Linked DNA regions of Homo sapiens. The protein of the gene in region 2 interacts with the protein of the main gene of each other region in a biochemical or structural test. Each region holds a gene or a part of one and is shown on either strand. Other genes may lie near its edges.

Region 1 (7,131 bases), on a different chromosome or scaffold from region 2:
TATGCTCCCTTTAGCTCACAAATATTTATTGTATTAATTCTCATATTAAAAATATGTTTTCAGGGTTTTTATGCTCCAGTTTTGTTTCAAGGCTTTCTTGCAAAGCTTTGCAAACTTATTTATGGCCTCTCCTGCCCCAAATCAAGGCATTGATGGCCCAAAATGATAGTCATTTCCCTATCATAGTCCAGGCTCCACTGACAGCAGAATGGACCAAACCGATATACTGGGACACGAAGACTAAGATTCACAATGCCTAACAAGAAGTGAGAGTGGATACAAGTGACAGATGATAGGAAAAACGTTTGGAAGCAAATAGTGAGAGTCTTGTCATGAGACCTGGACTGACTCCCAAGAAAGATCTGGCTGGGGCAGAGAGGATGTGTGGGGTGGACAATGGTCGAGGCAGCTTCATGCCTGGAGAATCCATATTACTAAGCAGGAAACTAGGCATGTTCATTCATTGCTGATGAAAGGGTAAACTGGCTAAAACTCATTCGAAGGTCTTTATCAATAAGTGTTTAAAAGCATTCCAATGTTCCTACTTTTTACCAAGGATTTAACTTCCTAAAAATGTAAAGATACAATCTAGAAGTACAATTAAAGGTGTCATCACAGCACTGTATGTAATACCATCTTTTAATAATGTTAAATTTACCACTATACTCAGAAACCTTTTTTTTAAATTAAGCTAAATATCCAATGAGATGGGATTGAATGCATAGATTATGGTATGTGCATATGCTGGTATAGTCTGCTTCCATTAAAAATAATAAATCCCATTAAAAATAATGTTCTCAGAAAAATGTAAATATTGGAAAGCTGTTCATTGTAATATAATGTTTTAAAAATTTGTAGGCATACATATGAAGATGTGCTTTTGTATATATGTATGTATGCATGTGTGTACGTGTATGCATGTTTTCTTCTGTAAAGAAAAAACCACTGAGTGTACTAAATGTTAATGATGATTATTGCTGAGTGGTAGTATAACAAGTTATTTGTGTTTTCTTTATGCATTTCTATGATGTTTATATTTTCTATGAGTCCATTGTTTTAACAGAAAAAAGAAAACCACCTTTTTTTAATGCAAAAGCATAAGTAGTGACCTCATTATTCACAACATACACAGTTATAAGGGGCTAGCTCTGGCCACAAGGCAGAAACCAGGTAAAAATGTGCAGTAATTGTTCCGGCTTGGATCTAAGACAATGACCTCAGTATCCATATATTCTCCATGTCTGAGATCTTACTCTGATCTCATTTTGGATTAGTAGACATTACTGGGCTTTCGAGTTAAAACGACTGAGTTTAAAATCCCAGGTTTTTCCTCTTAATAGCTTTTGACCTGGCATAAAATATTTAACTTTTCAGAGCCCCAGTTATCAAACGTAAAACAAAAAAATGATGTTGCTTATAATTAACCTTAAGAATTAAATGAAATAGCATCCATGTCTAGCACAATGCCTCAAATGTTATTTTGCTTTTCCTTCCTAGAAATAGAGGAAGAGCTGAACTCACAAGGACAGACAATATTACAGTCCAGACAAGAGATAGCAGGGGTCTACGGGCTGTTCAGGGACCTTTAGACTTCTTTCAAATTTGGAACAAACTCGTAAATCCCCAAAATACAGTTGATTCTGGGGTTTCACCTGGACACTTGATTCCATCTCTTTTCCATCACAGGAAAAACTAGATCTTTGGTGTTTGAACCAAAAGCCCCAAATGGTTTCCAAATATAACCTACATGTCTTAGAACATCAGATATAATCTCTTCTGTAACAATGATTAATTAAAGAAATGGAGTCCTGAGCGCTGTATTATACATGAAGCAGAACCCTCTTCCATGCACTCACTTTGCACTCCCAAGTTGATGACATTCATTAAATGTAAAAATGTGTGAGTAATCCCATTGTTTTTGTTTGTAGGTCCCGAGATGTGGCCGTAGTTAAAGTGACCATGAATTTTGAGCCAAATAAAGTGAATATTCAAAAGAAAAACTGCCATATGGAGGGAAAGGAAACAGTATGCATAAATGCTACAGTGTGTTTTGATGTGAAATTAAAGTCTAAAGAAGACACGATTTATGAAGCTGGTAAGCAAAATAATTATAGCAAGTACTTTTGGGTAGAGGACAATATATTTGCTCTAGCATGATGAAGTCCAGTAGGATATTGTATTTTCCCCACATGGTGAGCTGCACGTCATATTTGCCCCAGTGAAGATGCAGAACCTTGAAAAAAAATTCTGTTGCAAAAGGAATAGGTTATGGAACCCAGTCAATTCTGGAGCAGAAATTACATGTTTGTATGCAGTGCCCTCAACACTCCATAGTTTCTGTCTGGCTCTCCTACTTGCTATGTACAATGAGACGCTTAAGAAAAAAATACCGATTCAGAGGTAGAGTTTAGAAATTGAGCTACAAATGGGCCCAGTTTTCCTTCCTGTAGGTTTCTACCATGACTCTTCTCTCCCTTCTCTTGCCCCCTCTTGGGAAAGACTGATATTGCAGAGAACCCTAATACTTTACCATTCCCACATTTCCGAGATCCTTTGTTCCATTGAGGTGACCCTAGTTTCCGAGAGTCAGACTTGTTCTGTGTGTGTGTTCTCAGGTGCATCAGGTCAGCCTGTGCTTCCTCTTCCTCCCTCCGTTCTCCACTTTCTAAGGCAGCTTTTTAATGATGTTGAAATATGCTCGAATCAAAGCTATAAAGGCCATTGGCTAAAGAAGAGAAATTTACTCTGTAACCAAATACAAGCAGAATGAGAAAAGCCATTAATCCTTAAAATCTGTTTTTCTTGATTTGTTCCATATGTGCATGTATATGCTCTGAAATAGCCTCCTGACTAGAAAGATCAATGAGGTATAAGAACATAAAATAATGATTTTGAGTTTTATATGTAACTTTATTTCAGTCTTATTTAATTTTTGCAAAGTAATTAAGTGATCAAATAAGGAATATTGTAGCCTTCATATACAGTGTAAGATTTCATTTATTTTCTTTATTGTGGTATGCTTATTTTATTGAACCTTAATAGTGGTTTGACCATAAGCTGAGATAATGTCATTTTATATATAAATAGATTAAAATGTATATATTTGTAAATAAATAACTAAAGTATATTTTTGTCCCTATTGAAATATAACATAATCAATATTCTAAGCAGGGTTCCAACATTTCTAAACTTAAAAAGAATGTTTTAAGTGAAAATATAATAAATACAGTGGTGGCCTGGCAATTAGATGATAGGCAGGTGTGCATGTGTGTATAAGAATTATAAACAATAAATGTAATTAGACACTGAAAGCACAGTGAACTCAGAGACCAGTTCTATAGAGTTCCTCAAGGTTATCTTCATGACTGCTAATATCATTGTTATAACAGTGTGGATATGCTGAACAATAGAATCTTTTTTGATTGATTGCCAAAGAGATTTTTCTATAATGCTAATTTAATAATCTGTACAATATGAGAATCACTTCAAATAAACATTTCCATCAATTATTTTTTAAAATTTTTGTAGATTTGCAGTACCGTGTCACCCTAGATTCACTAAGACAAATATCACGAAGTTTTTTCTCTGGAACTCAAGAGAGAAAGGTTCAAAGGAACATCACAGTTCGAAAATCAGAATGCACTAAGCACTCCTTCTACATGTTGGCAAGTAAATCATATATCGTTGCTGCCTTATTCCAAATCAAGAATACAGTAGAGATGTCTTATTTCAAGTCAATCAAATTCTTACTGTTTTATTTCAAAATGCACTTATGATGTCATAAAGGAAATCTTGTTTGTTCATTTTTATCATAAAATCGCAGGTCTAATTTTCTCATTTCCAAATATTTGTAAAACTATCTCTAGTCTTCCCTGTCTGCATTATCAGACATCCATATATTATGGAACGGCAGGAAAAGACACAGTGTTCTAGTTGACAAGAAACCTTATTCATGTCTTCATTTCTTTCACTCATTCATTTATTCCTTCAACTTGAAAACATTTAATTTCTGTGGGCCTTGTCTGTCAGTTGTGGTTGGTAAGTGATTAACTGCTCTGGGGGCAGACTGCTGGGCTGTATGCTTTCTGGGATCCATGTAACTACATATCTCGCCGTTTGATTTTAGAGCGAAGGGGAAAATTATCTGGTATTTTCTATCATCTGTAGGCTTTGTGCTACTTCAGTTTTTTTTTTTTTTAATTTTAGTGGATGAGGGAGTTTTGGAAATCAAACTATTAATGTTTAGAGATGGCTGGTAAGCCAGTGTGAATCATTTAAAATGTATTTTGTTGGGACACTGTGTATATGGGGAATGTTCCCAACAGAGGGCAGGAGTTTCCTAAACATTTTCTTAAAATGTACATGAGAGTGATAAAAACAAGAAGCAGCATGAAGGTAATGAGGAAACTGATTTTAGTAACTGACATTAAGACTTAGAGACTTGACGGTAAACTTGGAGCTTTAAAGGAACCAGGCCAATTTTCCTACTTCTGACTTATTTCTGTATTATTGATATATTCATAGTCTGTATTTTGAAAATTGTAGTTCAGGGGCAGGGGAGTGACAGAAAATGTGCACCCTTTTGTGCCACATTTGTTCTTCCTCAGTGATTTTCATGTTGATATGCTTCATGATACTTATCATGAAGCTTATTCTGTCAGGACCAAGATCAATCTATTATTTGGTAAAATAACACTGGAGTTGCCCCTCCTATTTAGTTAATCAGAACTGAACACTTAGGAATTAGAATGTGGATAAAATTTGAATGGGTATGAAACCAGATATGGCATTGTCTCCAACCTGCTAAAAATCATCTCAGTCTATGTTTGTCCACAAATTCAGTGTCTAAGTTATGTCCAGGTACTGGTGTTTAAAGGACTGAAATATTTTCAAAATTTCGAAAATTGTTTTGGATTTTGAAAGAAGCACTTTGAAATTTGTTCTGGAGTCAGCCAGTGTAGAATTTGTATCCCAAATATTCCACATTCTGAGAGACTTTGGCAACGTCGTTTGGTCTCTTAGAGGGTCAATCTTTCATCTGTAAAATAAGGACAATAATAGTTACTCATCTTAGAGGACTGTTGAAATAATTTGCAATAATGTATATAAAGCTCATAATTTTGAATACTATAAATGATTATTGTTATTGGTGGCATGTTAACAGTATTAATCATATTCACATCCTTTCCAAATAATTTTACATTATAAAATTCTTGGCCAGGCATGGTGGCTCACGCCTGTAATCCCAGCACTTTGGGAGGCTGAGGTGAGTGGATCACCTGAGGTCAGGAGTTCGAGACCAGCCTGGCCAACGTGGTGAAACCCCGTCTCTACTAAAAACACAAAAATTAGCTGGGTGTGGTGGCACATGCCTGTAATCCCAGCTAGTCGGGAGGCTGAGGCAGGAGAATCACTTGAACCTGGGAAGTGGAGGTTGCAGTGAGCCGAGATCGTGCCGCTGTACTCCAGCCTGGGTGACAGAGAGAGACTCTGTCTCAAACAAACAAACAAACAAACAAACAAACAAAAACTTATAGCTGTAGGTATATATTATATTAATGAAATGTAACTCATTTTATAGAAAGTTTGCCCTTCTGAAGTTGGGAAATGTTCCCGGAAGTGTTACATAATGATCTTTGGCTTGAGGTCTCAAGAAAAACTATATTGTGATGCAGGTAGCTCCTATGTTGACACAGCCAAGTGTGATGTTGCCATCACTCCAGCAGGGCCCTCTGAGGAACTGGAAGTGAGTCAACAGGTCATACTCTGAAACCTCCACATTCCCCTATGCCCCTTGTCAGAATGCCAATCCCTCTCCAGGGAAGCAAAAGCCTGATGAGATCATATGTCAGATTAGATGCACAAGAATGCTGCAGTAAGCCTGACCCTTGGGAACAGAAGAAGGAGACATAACAAGATCAGAACACCCGGTAAATATGATACCAGTGATATATTTTATGTTTCACCCTCTAGGACAAGCATGACTTTCAGGACTCTGTGAGAATAACGTTGGACTTTAATCTTACCGATCCAGAAAATGGGCCTGTTCTTGATGATTCTCTACCAAACTCAGTACATGAATATGTAAGTCAGATTTCTTTAAAATACAAAATACCAACTTGTGAACATTTTAATGTCACTAGTAAACTGTGTTTTTTCACTACTCTGCATTGATCACAAAGAACGAACAACTAACTGGAAGAAAGAAAAAAAAGGCAAGCAGATTTTATTCCTGGTCAGGAATGGAGAAAGAGGGAGCTCTTGCTCTAAAGACCTTCTCTTCAAGCTGTGAAAACCTGGGGAATTTTAAGGAGTTAGATGTGGGGCAGGGAGGTATATGTAAGCATGTCCAGAGAGGAACTCCAGATGTACAAGTACAGCTCATAAACATGCTTCCTTATACAACATATGTTCAAGAAATGGTGGCCATTTTCTTCTATGGCAGGGACTTTAGCATTATAATGACATGTTAATGATCTAAAGGTAACAAGGGGTTGCTGGTTCTTGTTTGCTCCGTTTTCTCAATGGCTTTATCTTCCTCTGGTAATTGGCAAAGGGTCCTGAAGCTCCCAGGCCGTCTATAGTTGTTTTTCAGCAAGCTTACCTACAGATAAATAGACTAGAAAAAAAAAAACTGTTTAAGAAAAAATAATGCACTTTCTCAGCTATCTACTGTTTAACAAAATAATGAACTTTCTCAGTTATCTACTCTTCAAGAAAATAGTAAACTTTCTCAGCCATATCTCCAGGTTTGCCCTGGTAACATTAGGAAAAAGCTTGAAACCCATGCACACATAACCCTAAATCAATTTAAAATGTTTTAAAAAAGAATTAGGCTCTTCTAGACTTTTTCCAATCCTTCTAATTTCCTATTGTTGGAGTTTAAGAAAACTAATAAATGACACTCATTTTTACCTCATTTGAATTTAGGACCAATGGAAAGAAATCTCCCCCATTATTCTAATAAGCACTGGATTGCAGTGTATGGTTTAGGTATAAAGGGTGTCCTCACGCTGAAGCATGGACTTAGACCACCAGTAACCACCTAGGTCATCAGCAGTGCTGATCCATCTCTGTCCTTCTTCATGGAGCCCACCTTGTAAAACTTGTCAAATGGAGTAGAGCCAAATG
Region 2 (2,940 bases):
CAGTTGTCTAAGGCTGCCTGTCACCACTGTGGCCTCTCCAAGCGTCCTGCACGTGTCCGCCGTAGCTTTACCATTTTAGTGAGGGAAGCCAGCCCGGGGGTGGGAGGGGGTGTGTCTGGGTGTGCCTATTGAGAGCGTGTAATGGCGTTTGGGAGCTCGTGTGTGTATGTGTGCGTGTGTGTATGTGTGCATGTGTGTGTGTGTGTGTGTGTGTGCACGTGCGCCTGAGGGTGGGCATGAGTCTTGCCAGAATGTGAGTGTGAGAGTGATAATGCAGGGGTGAGTGTGAGAGGGACTGCGTTTGCATTTTTATAATCAAAAGCTTAATATATTCCCATCTTTTTTAGTTAACCCTTTCTTGACTCTGAGTGCTGTGAATTTCTTTACTGATTTCTCTATTCTCCGGTGAGAAACAATTAAATGTGATTTAACGTAAGCAGTGAATGGGGCTAGAGGCAGTGTGGTTATTTGGGGACCAGGGAAAAGGATGGATGAAGATGTGGTGGGAGGGGATGGTTGGAAGGATGGTAACAGTGGTGGTGACAGTGATGACAGTGACCACACCAAAACCAGCTGGTGTTTGTCCTGCCTTTTCAGTTACATATTCATTTAGTTGACCTCATTTCACTTCCAGTAACCTTACCCAGAAAAGACTCAAATTATCCCCATTACAAATGGGAAAGCTGAGAGTCTAAATGATGAAATGACTTGCTCAGCAGTGGGTCGCTGAGAGACAGGACTTGAATCTAGGACTGAAGAACATCAAAAGAAAAAGGCTTCAGAGAAAAAGGGCAATGACACCAGATAGGACTCATTTGTTCATTCATTCATTCGTTCACTCATTCGTTCAGGTATCATGTACTTACAGGGCAATGGCGGTGGGGGGGGATGGTGCTGTATGAGACAGACGTAGTTCCTGCCCTAAGAGACATACAGTTGAGCAGGGTGCTCATGTCACCCCCACCAGCCAGAGGGACCAGCCAGAGGAAAAGAGAGTGGGTTTAGGTCGTACCAGGGGTTTGTGCCTCCTCTTGATACCTGGGAGCCCACGGGGTGAGTGTGTGTGTGAGATGATGGGAAGGGCTCCAGCCTGGGCCTGGGCTGCCCTAGGTGCCTCTCCCCTCCCGCCCCCAACATGCCCTGTTGGAGTTCTGTTTGTTTCCTGTGCACAGGCGGCATCACCCCCAACCCAAAGTCCCCAACGCAGATGGCAGCAGCCCCACCTCAGAGACTGCACAAGAGAAAGACTCCTGGCCCCATGTTCCCTTCCTCCAGCCCTATGTGGGGTCTGCAGGTCACACCCTGAGATCTCGGCCACCTCCCCCAGGCCCCTGTTGGACCAGTGCTGCTCCGGAATCTCCATCTCTGTCCTCTCAGAGGGGGAGCTTTGGTGATTTTCTGAACCTATTCTTGTTTAATGGAGCATTTTTAGTGTTACTACTAGATTCACACTTGAGAGCATGTCTAAAAGGCTTTTACAAGAAGCTCAGACCACACCGAAAGATCTTCCTCGGAGGCAGTTCAAAGAGGCAGAATAACAACACGAACGGTACCCAAGAGCTACATCAGTACAACAGCACAAATACACAAGCGCGACTTAACTGGGGCACAGCCACCCTCGCCCCCATGACCTGACTCCACCTCCTACACAGTTCACCAAACCCTTTCTCTCTGTCCGTCCCTGGGGCAGGAGTTTTTCTGCTGTCCAAGGAGGCTCCTTGACACAGCCACCTGAGAAGTTATGACTCTGCTCATTCTTCCTTTCTTCTGAGATTATCCACTCCCCTCTCCTCCCCACACAGGTGGGGAGGGGGAGAGGCAGCCATGTTGATATGGACTGAGAAGGCTCAGCAGTGTGTCCCCAAGGAGGAGGAGAGGGTCATTAGCGGACGCCATGGCCTGGGAGCTGGCGGGCAGAAGCAACAGATGTCCCTGATGAGTGGAGTCAGAGATGGGGTGGAAGCCCTGCCTGGGAATAGGACCTCGTTCTTCCCTGCCCGGTGGGTGGAGTAGTGGCAGGACCTTGTCACCAGGCTCTGATGAAGGCAGGGACCAGCTTCTTGGGATCTTTCAATCCCAAACTCTTGCCCTTCACTCATCGCAGTTCTCCCCACGGCTACTCCAGGTCCTCTTGAAATCCGTCCTCTCCATGGACTTCCCACATCCCTCTCTGCTCTAGGTTTGATTAACAGAAGGTTGTAAATGAAAACCAGCATCTCCCGAGGGCAGCCATGGTCTACTGACAGATGGCAAGTTACTTTGTAACCTGTAATTTTGTTTTTTTGAATTTTGTATAAATAAACAGGACTAAACTAATTAGGATTGTTCTTTTCTTTCTTTCCTCAGGCCTTGGGCTATAATGGGAGTCTCTTGGCCCCGTAGTGCATTGGTTACCAGGTTTCAATAAAGGGTTTGTCTTTGCAATTACAGTTCATTAATGGATTTACAAGGGAGAGAAGATGGCACAGTCCGCTAAGGGGATTGTTTTGCATTTCTCCTCTTTTAATTACATGGTTTTCTCCTGGACCAGTGCTCTTTGAAAAAAGGGGGCGGGGGTGGAGAGTCCCAATGCCCCATCTGTTCCAGATGTGAATGCAATTAATCCAGGAGAAGACAGGAGCTGCTCAGGGACTTCCTGATACCTGAGGCTGGGCCTGCATCCTCTTCAGAGCCGCCTGTGAGGCTGGGGGTTGGGGGGCCCTGCTACTCAACCCTGGTTGGCATCAAGGTATGTTGACAAGGGGAGGGGACCACTCTGCTTATGGGGGCGTCGCAGCCTTGGAGTATTTGGGGTCAGAATCAAGTTTGGGTCACCTATTGAGTTACCATTTTTGGGTGATCCCTATGTGCCGGGTGATATATACACAATTTCCAATTCACACTTCTCAGTGATCCTTTTAATAAACTTATTTCACAGACAGGGACACCAAGGCTGCCAGA
Region 3 (7,131 bases), on a different chromosome or scaffold from region 2:
CTTGCCGTTGATCAGCAGTAATATATTACTCTTCTCTAAATCAGCACCGCCCCTGATGCCCAGACCTTCCCTCCATGAAAGTCTACTTCAACTCCAAATCACAAATGCGAAGTACTGGGTAGCAGTACATCTTTTCACTGGTTAATTGTCCACTGAGGCTATACTGCTTTTTATTTCTTGGTAGAGCTTGAATGTGACTAGGAATGTGATTTCTGATCTCTCAAAAACATAATATTAATAGGACTTTAAGGCCTGATGAAACTTCAAAAGGATTCTGTGCAGTAATTTGTCTGGAACCGTCTAGATAAAAAAATTCTTTTCTTACCTAAAATAAAGAAACTGCAGAACAGCATAGTCTGCAACCTTCTTTGTTGTTCCTGTTGTTGGATTTGGGGCTCAAATCCTCCTGAATAAAAAAAAAAAAGATAGTTGGATCATTCTTTGTGCTAAGGCATTTAACATATTTTTAACGATGTAACTAATATCATCATTTTCTATCGGTTGTTAGAGTTCCTGTATTCTTTCTGGACAGTTTTAGTTCCCTGTCTCCCCTCTCCAATGCTGTATCTCTGTTTGTTCAGTGTTAAGTATTACATGCCCTGCAGGGACATAATGCTCATTGCTTGTTATGGAACACAGGTTATTATTATAACCTTTACATTGATGATCATTTTGGCTACAGTGCTTTGTTGTTTAAAAAGTACACATGCACAATCTAGTTTGTTTCTCACAGCCAGGAGTAGGCTGGGTGAATATTTAAGAAGTGCAGACATGGAGCCAGGCTGCCAGGGCTTATGCACTATTCTTTTACCTTGAAGTGCTTCAGTTTCCTCTTCAGTGAATGGGAATCACTATGCCTACCTTGTATTTAGAGCATATATGCACATGTTAATACATGTAAAGCTCTTGGAACAGTGCCTGGCATATGGCAAACAGACACTCTGACATTATTTAGTGAAATTTAACTGTTATTATTGTTGCTCCCTTTTTTTATAATATATTTGAGAAAATACAGACTCTTAAATTCATGTCCTGACAAAAGTCTGTCAGGTAATAACAAGACAGATATTCATGCTTCCTGAGTCTATGTTCCCAAAGTGGACAGAATGATTGGCTGGCTGTCTAATCATACGATTAGTTTTTCTTTGCAACCTAGACATGTGAATTGAGCATGTCCCATAATTGCTGAGTGTCTCGCTTCTTTCTCTGCCTCTCTTGCAGAGCTACGTGGATCACATTAGCAATCCCTGGAACTTTAGTCTCCCCCGCCTTCAGTTTTGTGCCACAGGTCAGCTAGTGTTATTGCTTGGTCGGTTGTCTCAAAGACTCTCTCTGCTGCCACCAAACTTGCCCATTGGGACTAGTTCCTCGTCACTCTGAGAATTTTAAAGGAACATATTTATTAATAATAAAGAGTCCTGACTTCCTCTTTGTGCACTCACTAGGGCAAAACATAAATTAAATGACAAATCATTTGAATGTGAACACTAGGAAGGTGACTTGTGAGCTAAGGTGCTTTTTGCCTCTTGGACATGGAAGTTGTAGCTGGCTTTGTGCTGGACTATGCTAGGTTATAAGAGTATTTGGTTTTCTTGTGCAAAGTCCACAGAAAGGTGAGCTTTGCTTGAGACTATTGAGTGGAAAAATACACACGCACACATTCAGTTCTGGGCTAAGTTTTTCAGTACCTAATTTTTCCATTTCCATTGCTGCAGCTGTTTTATTTGGTTGCTGGGCCTTACATAAACCAGTTTATAATTCCTTAAACATATACTGCTTTGTCAAATACCACAACATTAAGCTCAAGAAATATAAGAAACTCCTGGTACATACAAAAAGTCTACATAACCAGTGGATTAATTATGAAATACCCTATTTAATGTGAAAATTATTCACTTTTTTTGTTTTGACTGTATACACAGTCCCTTTTACGCCACAGCATGTATTAGGTGAGGGGCTGCCTCCAGAATGATCCAGCCGAGATGGGCTTCCATCAGTGTAACATGACTACCCTCTAGTGGTTTTATAGAGAATGACATAGCTATTCATTTGTTTAAAAAAAAAACGTTTAGCAATAATTTTAAATATTTTATTTTATTTTAATTGACATATAATAGTTATACATATTTATGGGATATGTAGTAATGTTTCAATAGAAATATTACATAATGACCAGATTAGGGTAATTAGTATATCCATCATCTCAAACATTTATCATTTCTTTGTATTGGGAATATTCAACATATTTATAGGTCCTTGACATTTCAGAAAACCATGTAATCATTAGGCAGTTAGTGTAAGTAATACACACATGAGGCAGGCAGAGCAGAATAACACTTTAGATGCATGTTTTCTCTTTCTGAAGAGTTACAAAGCAGTTGATAGATATTCATGAATGTAGCTGCTGGGCTAACCATTTATGCCCATTTTGTGAACCGTTATTATGAGTCAGCTTCACTTTTTGAGTGATGTGGACTGTGGACATAGTGTCACCCAACTGAGGCTCCCACATAGTTTAGAACATACATGAGAGCAAAGGCCCTGGGTCAGGGCTTTCCAGAGCCTGACAATCTGCTATGTTAAGGCTGTTTTTTTTTCTCTGGTATTTCTACAGGGCAAAACCTCAGAGAAATATCTTAGTTTCTTATGATCATTAGAGCTCTGCAAAAGTCAATACTGTGCTTTGTTTTTGTACCTCTGTCTACTTCCTGGTCAACTCAGGCCCAAGGAATTAAAAAAAATGACCACACACACACACACACACACACACACACCCTGCCACACCCCTCCACACCCTTCCACAGAGTTAAAAAAATCAATAGGTAGGAAAATACAGTTAGTGCAGTGGTTAAGGGTCCTCATTTCTGGCTATATGACTATGGACAATTATTTGACCTTCCTAACTCTCAGTTTATGCATGAGAAAAATGGGCTCAATAATGAGCATAGTGTATGCCCATGGAAAAGAGAAAGCATTCTCATTAAGCATTTGTGGTGATGATGATGATGATGATGATGATGATGACATCATCAAAAGCTCCAAAGGGTAAATTGCTGCATTTGCCAAAGGCAGAACTGGATGAGATGCATGCTTCATAAAATAAATCAAGGGTAGACAGGATGGCTTCATCGACTCTTCCTTCAGAGGATAAGCAGCAATTTGGAATAAACTCAGCAAGGTAAAAAAGAAAAAGAAAAACTTCTCCTGAAGTGTGTTGATGGGGAACCAAATGTGAAAATCTAAAAAGCTATCCTTCTGCTTTTTAATATTGTTAGTGTATTAGAGAATAAATTACTTAAAACTTAAGGTTTTTGGCTGGCTCTACAAATGTTGAAAAAAATTTGAATTAGTTGCTAACATTTAAACATTGGGAGATATTTATTTAAAGACTCAGCTTCCTGGCCTCTCTTGAAAATTATCAGAAGTTCTGGCAACACTGGCCTGTATTCCCCGATGACAGCTGTTAGCTGGAGAAGAGCTGCTGCCCGCATCCACTTTCCAGCTCACCACAGGCCTCACTCCTCCCTTTGGTCTCCCCAACACTTACGTGGAATATTAGTGGCCAAATTTCATTGCATTTGTACTTTACGTTTTCATCTGGTAAAAACAGTGGGGGAATTTCTTAATCCAGGCTTGTTTCTTTATAACATCAGGGATCAGCAAACTTTATTTGTGAAGGATCAGATTATTTGGCTATGGGCACCATATTGCAGCTATTTAACTCTGCCCTGGTACGCCAAAGCAGCCACAGACAATATGTAAACAAATGACCATGGTCGTGTTCTAATAAAACTACAAAAACAAGATTTAGCTCATGAGCTGAAGTTTGCCCACCCCTGATCTCAATGACCATCCCAGCCCCTGTGCTCATTTGGTTTTCTACCTCTTCTTTGGGCATTTCCTTCTCCTAAACTTGATTTGATTTTAAGGCACACCTGGTATGTCTCAGTGGGAACATTCCTAGTGATAAGGTGCATGAAAATCGGATTTAGATCTGGCTCATCTTTTAAACCTTAAAAAAATCAACTTCACCTTTAACTGCATCTGGTGTTAAGGATCTTAACAGGTGCTGCTAAGGGCATAGTTCTGCTACAGCTTTATCTATAGATGCTGTGGATTAGGGAGAAGCTTTCTCAGGGACCTCATCATTAAAAGAAAACACATAATGATCTGCTTCATACTTACTAGGTATAGTTGAATGAAAGTATATGGGATAAATTAGGGAAAATTACTTATATCTCTGCTTATCTATAGCTTTGAGATGGATAAATTCAAAGATAATTATTCTCCCTTAAAACTTATTAATATATTGCCCTATGACATTGCTTTGTGTGGATCGAAGTGTATGCACCAGAGGAAGAATGAGATGTTATGTAAAGCAGGATCTCTAACCTACCTTCCTTCTAAAAATATGTGAGATATATATGAATAAGACCATATTACTACAGTAAGACCAACAAAAGACATATAAAAAGACAACTGAAATAGAAAAAGAAAAGTAAAAACCACAGAGAAAGAAGGAGAGTAACCAAATATAAGCAAATATGTAGTTGAACATGTAGATTTGGCTTCCGGCTTTTTGGCTGAAAGACCAGGTTAAGATGGCTGAGATGGAATGAGGATCCCTATATTATTTTGGCATACACAATTTGTTTTACACTGACTTCTCATCACCACTTTTGCAATAATTGTGTGAAAGTGCTGCTAGTGCACTGGGGTAAACATTCAGCAGAAATTCCTCTTTGTTATGGGGTGCTGTGCCTCAGAGAGTGTGCCCCATTGAGGGCAACATACAACCCTTAAACACGACAAAAGGAAGACAAGCAAGAAATGTCCCCCAGAGAACCTGCTATTGCAAAGTTCATGTTGGGGTCAGCCCTTCATGAGAAAAATATGAAAATTTGTAGGGCACATGGCACAGCCTTCTAAAAGACATTAATCAATAATATCTTAATAATTGTAATAATAGCCCCTATTTATCAGGTGCTTCCAATTGTAGAATTATTATTATTATTATTTTTAAGACGAAGTCTTGTTCTATCGCCCAGGCTGGAGTGCAGTGGCGCGATCTCGGCTCACTGCAACCTCTGCCTCCCGGGTGCAAGTAATTCTCCTGCCTCAGCCTCCTGAGTAGCTAGGACTACAGGCATACACCACCATACCTGGCTAATTTTTTTGTATTTTTAGTAGAAATGAGGTTTCACCATTTTGGCCAGGCTGATCTCAAACTCCTGACCTCAGGTGATCTGCCCACCTTGGCTTCCCAAAGTGCTGGGATTACAGGCATGAGCCACTGCACCTGGCCTGAATTTAATTATTAGGAAGACATTATCCCATCTTGTAGATGAAGAAACTGAGAGATTAGTGACTTGCTAATGTCACATTTTTCATAAATGATAGGGCTAGAATGTAAAGCTATTTGTCTCCAAAACCTGTGTTTTTAACCGCTAAACTATACTTCTCCCTGCCCGGATGTTGCTCAACTCTTAGAAGTAAGGAATACTGCTACTTGCATTCAAAAGAAATATAATGTGAGCCACAAATGTGAGTTGCATGTATGATTTTAAATCAAGTAGCCACATGAAAAAGGTAAAAATAATCAAGTGACATTAATTTTAATAATATAGTTTACTTAACCCACTGTGTGCAAAAGATCATTTCATCATGTAATAGACACAAAAATTATTAATGAACTATTTTACATTTTTTCATATCAAGTCTTTAAAATCCAGGTGTGTTTGATCCTTAGTTCATCTCCATTTGGCCTCATCACATTTCAGCTCTCAATAGGCACCTGTGGCTGGAGGCTACCATGGTGCACGGTGCAGCTCTACTGATGGAAATGGGGGTTAGAGACACTGAGGTCTCTTTCTGCTTTTAATTTCCATGAAAACCCAAGTCCAAGGAAGGGATCTTATTATCATCATCATCATCATCATCACCAATCATCACCAGTCATCATCCATCGCTTCCAAAAGCGTTTGTTAAACCCCTTATCTGAGCGCTGCTGAGCCATGCCCTCTGCCAGTTTGCATCAATGAGGATTCTCCTGTTCACATGTGCAATCTTCTGTGTGTTTCAGGTGACCCAGGCCCTGCCAGCTATGGCAGAAATGGCCGAGACGGTGAGCGAGGCCCCCCAGGGGTGGCAGGAATTCCTGGAGTGCCTGGACCCCCGGGACCTCCTGGGCTTCCCGGTTTCTGTGAGCCAGCCTCCTGCACCATGCAGGCTGGTCAGCGAGCATTTAACAAAGGGCCTGACCCTTGAAAGGCTTACTGCTGCATGGCTGTCTGCATGAACCACGCCTGGTGAAGGAGCCTGGGTGAGAAACACCATCCAAAGCTGGGGCAAAGATGATTACCTTCAGCATGATTACAATGTATTACCTTCAGTATGATTACAGAAGTCCTACTTGACAATCACATATAGAAGAACGGTGCTATTCAGTAAGTTCTCTTTCCTTTCCCTTGGAGGGAAGACAGCAGAGTCATCAGTTAAAAAAAAAAAAAGAAAACCAAACACCTCCCTTGAATAAATTTATACTCCTGTTCCCAGGATCTTGAGCTTTAGTGTGCTATACCTATGTGTCTTATCGTGGGCCACTGTGCCAATAAACAAAAACAACTGTTTGGTTTACCTCAGTTGCAGTAGTTATTTTCATTTAGAAGTTGTTCTCAGATTATTGTTTCAGTTATATAGAGGATTACTAGACTAGTTATGAAGAAACCCCACTACATTCAATGGAATTGGTGCTTAAAATCTCATCGATGTGCTGTCTCTGGAGTGATAAGAAAGGGCTACATCTCCCGAAATGATTTCTTTACGTCATGTATTGGTTTCCTTCTTCACCTTGAACTTTTGTTGAACTGTATGTACTTTACCCCAAACCTGTTAATATTTTGAGCGCTTCTATGTGAAAGCAAAGAAATAATTTTAATACTCTGGCATTCATAAATTTTATTGATGAGATTATTTATTTTAAAGGTTTGAGGTAACATCTCTGGTTGTACCAAAGAAGAAATAAATATGGTTTCTTAATCTCTTGCATGTTTTCTTATAAATAATCATGTTCAATGAAAAGAAGTTACTGAGCTTATTTAGATACATTAAACATTACTTAACTACTGGTTC

What was found.
Region 1: the proteins of MATN1 (region 2) and ITGA1 form a complex in vitro, tested with the Homo sapiens proteins (one study listed by BioGRID).
Region 3: the proteins of MATN1 (region 2) and COL9A1 interact in a biophysical measurement, tested with the Homo sapiens proteins (one study listed by IntAct).

The regions. Positions count from the first base shown.
Region 1 is NC_000005.10:52,916,804-52,923,934, forward strand, and holds part of ITGA1 (integrin alpha-1 precursor), read left to right. Parts: intron 1-1,928; coding exon 1,929-2,095; intron 2,096-3,528; coding exon 3,529-3,665; intron 3,666-5,973; coding exon 5,974-6,084; intron 6,085-7,131. UniProt on the Homo sapiens protein: Integrin alpha-1/beta-1 is a receptor for laminin and collagen. It recognizes the proline-hydroxylated sequence G-F-P-G-E-R in collagen. Involved in anchorage-dependent, negative regulation of EGF-stimulated cell growth.
Region 2 is NC_000001.11:30,710,653-30,713,592, reverse strand, and holds the end of MATN1 (matrilin-1 precursor), read left to right. Parts: coding exon 1-11; 3' UTR 12-2,316; downstream 2,317-2,940. UniProt on the Homo sapiens protein: A major component of the extracellular matrix of non-articular cartilage. Binds to type 2 collagens and forms long concatenated protein networks as part of the extracellular matrix.
Region 3 is NC_000006.12:70,216,033-70,223,163, reverse strand, and holds the end of COL9A1 (collagen alpha-1(IX) chain isoform 1 precursor), read left to right. Parts: intron 1-6,082; coding exon 6,083-6,267; 3' UTR 6,268-7,038; downstream 7,039-7,131. UniProt on the Homo sapiens protein: Structural component of hyaline cartilage and vitreous of the eye.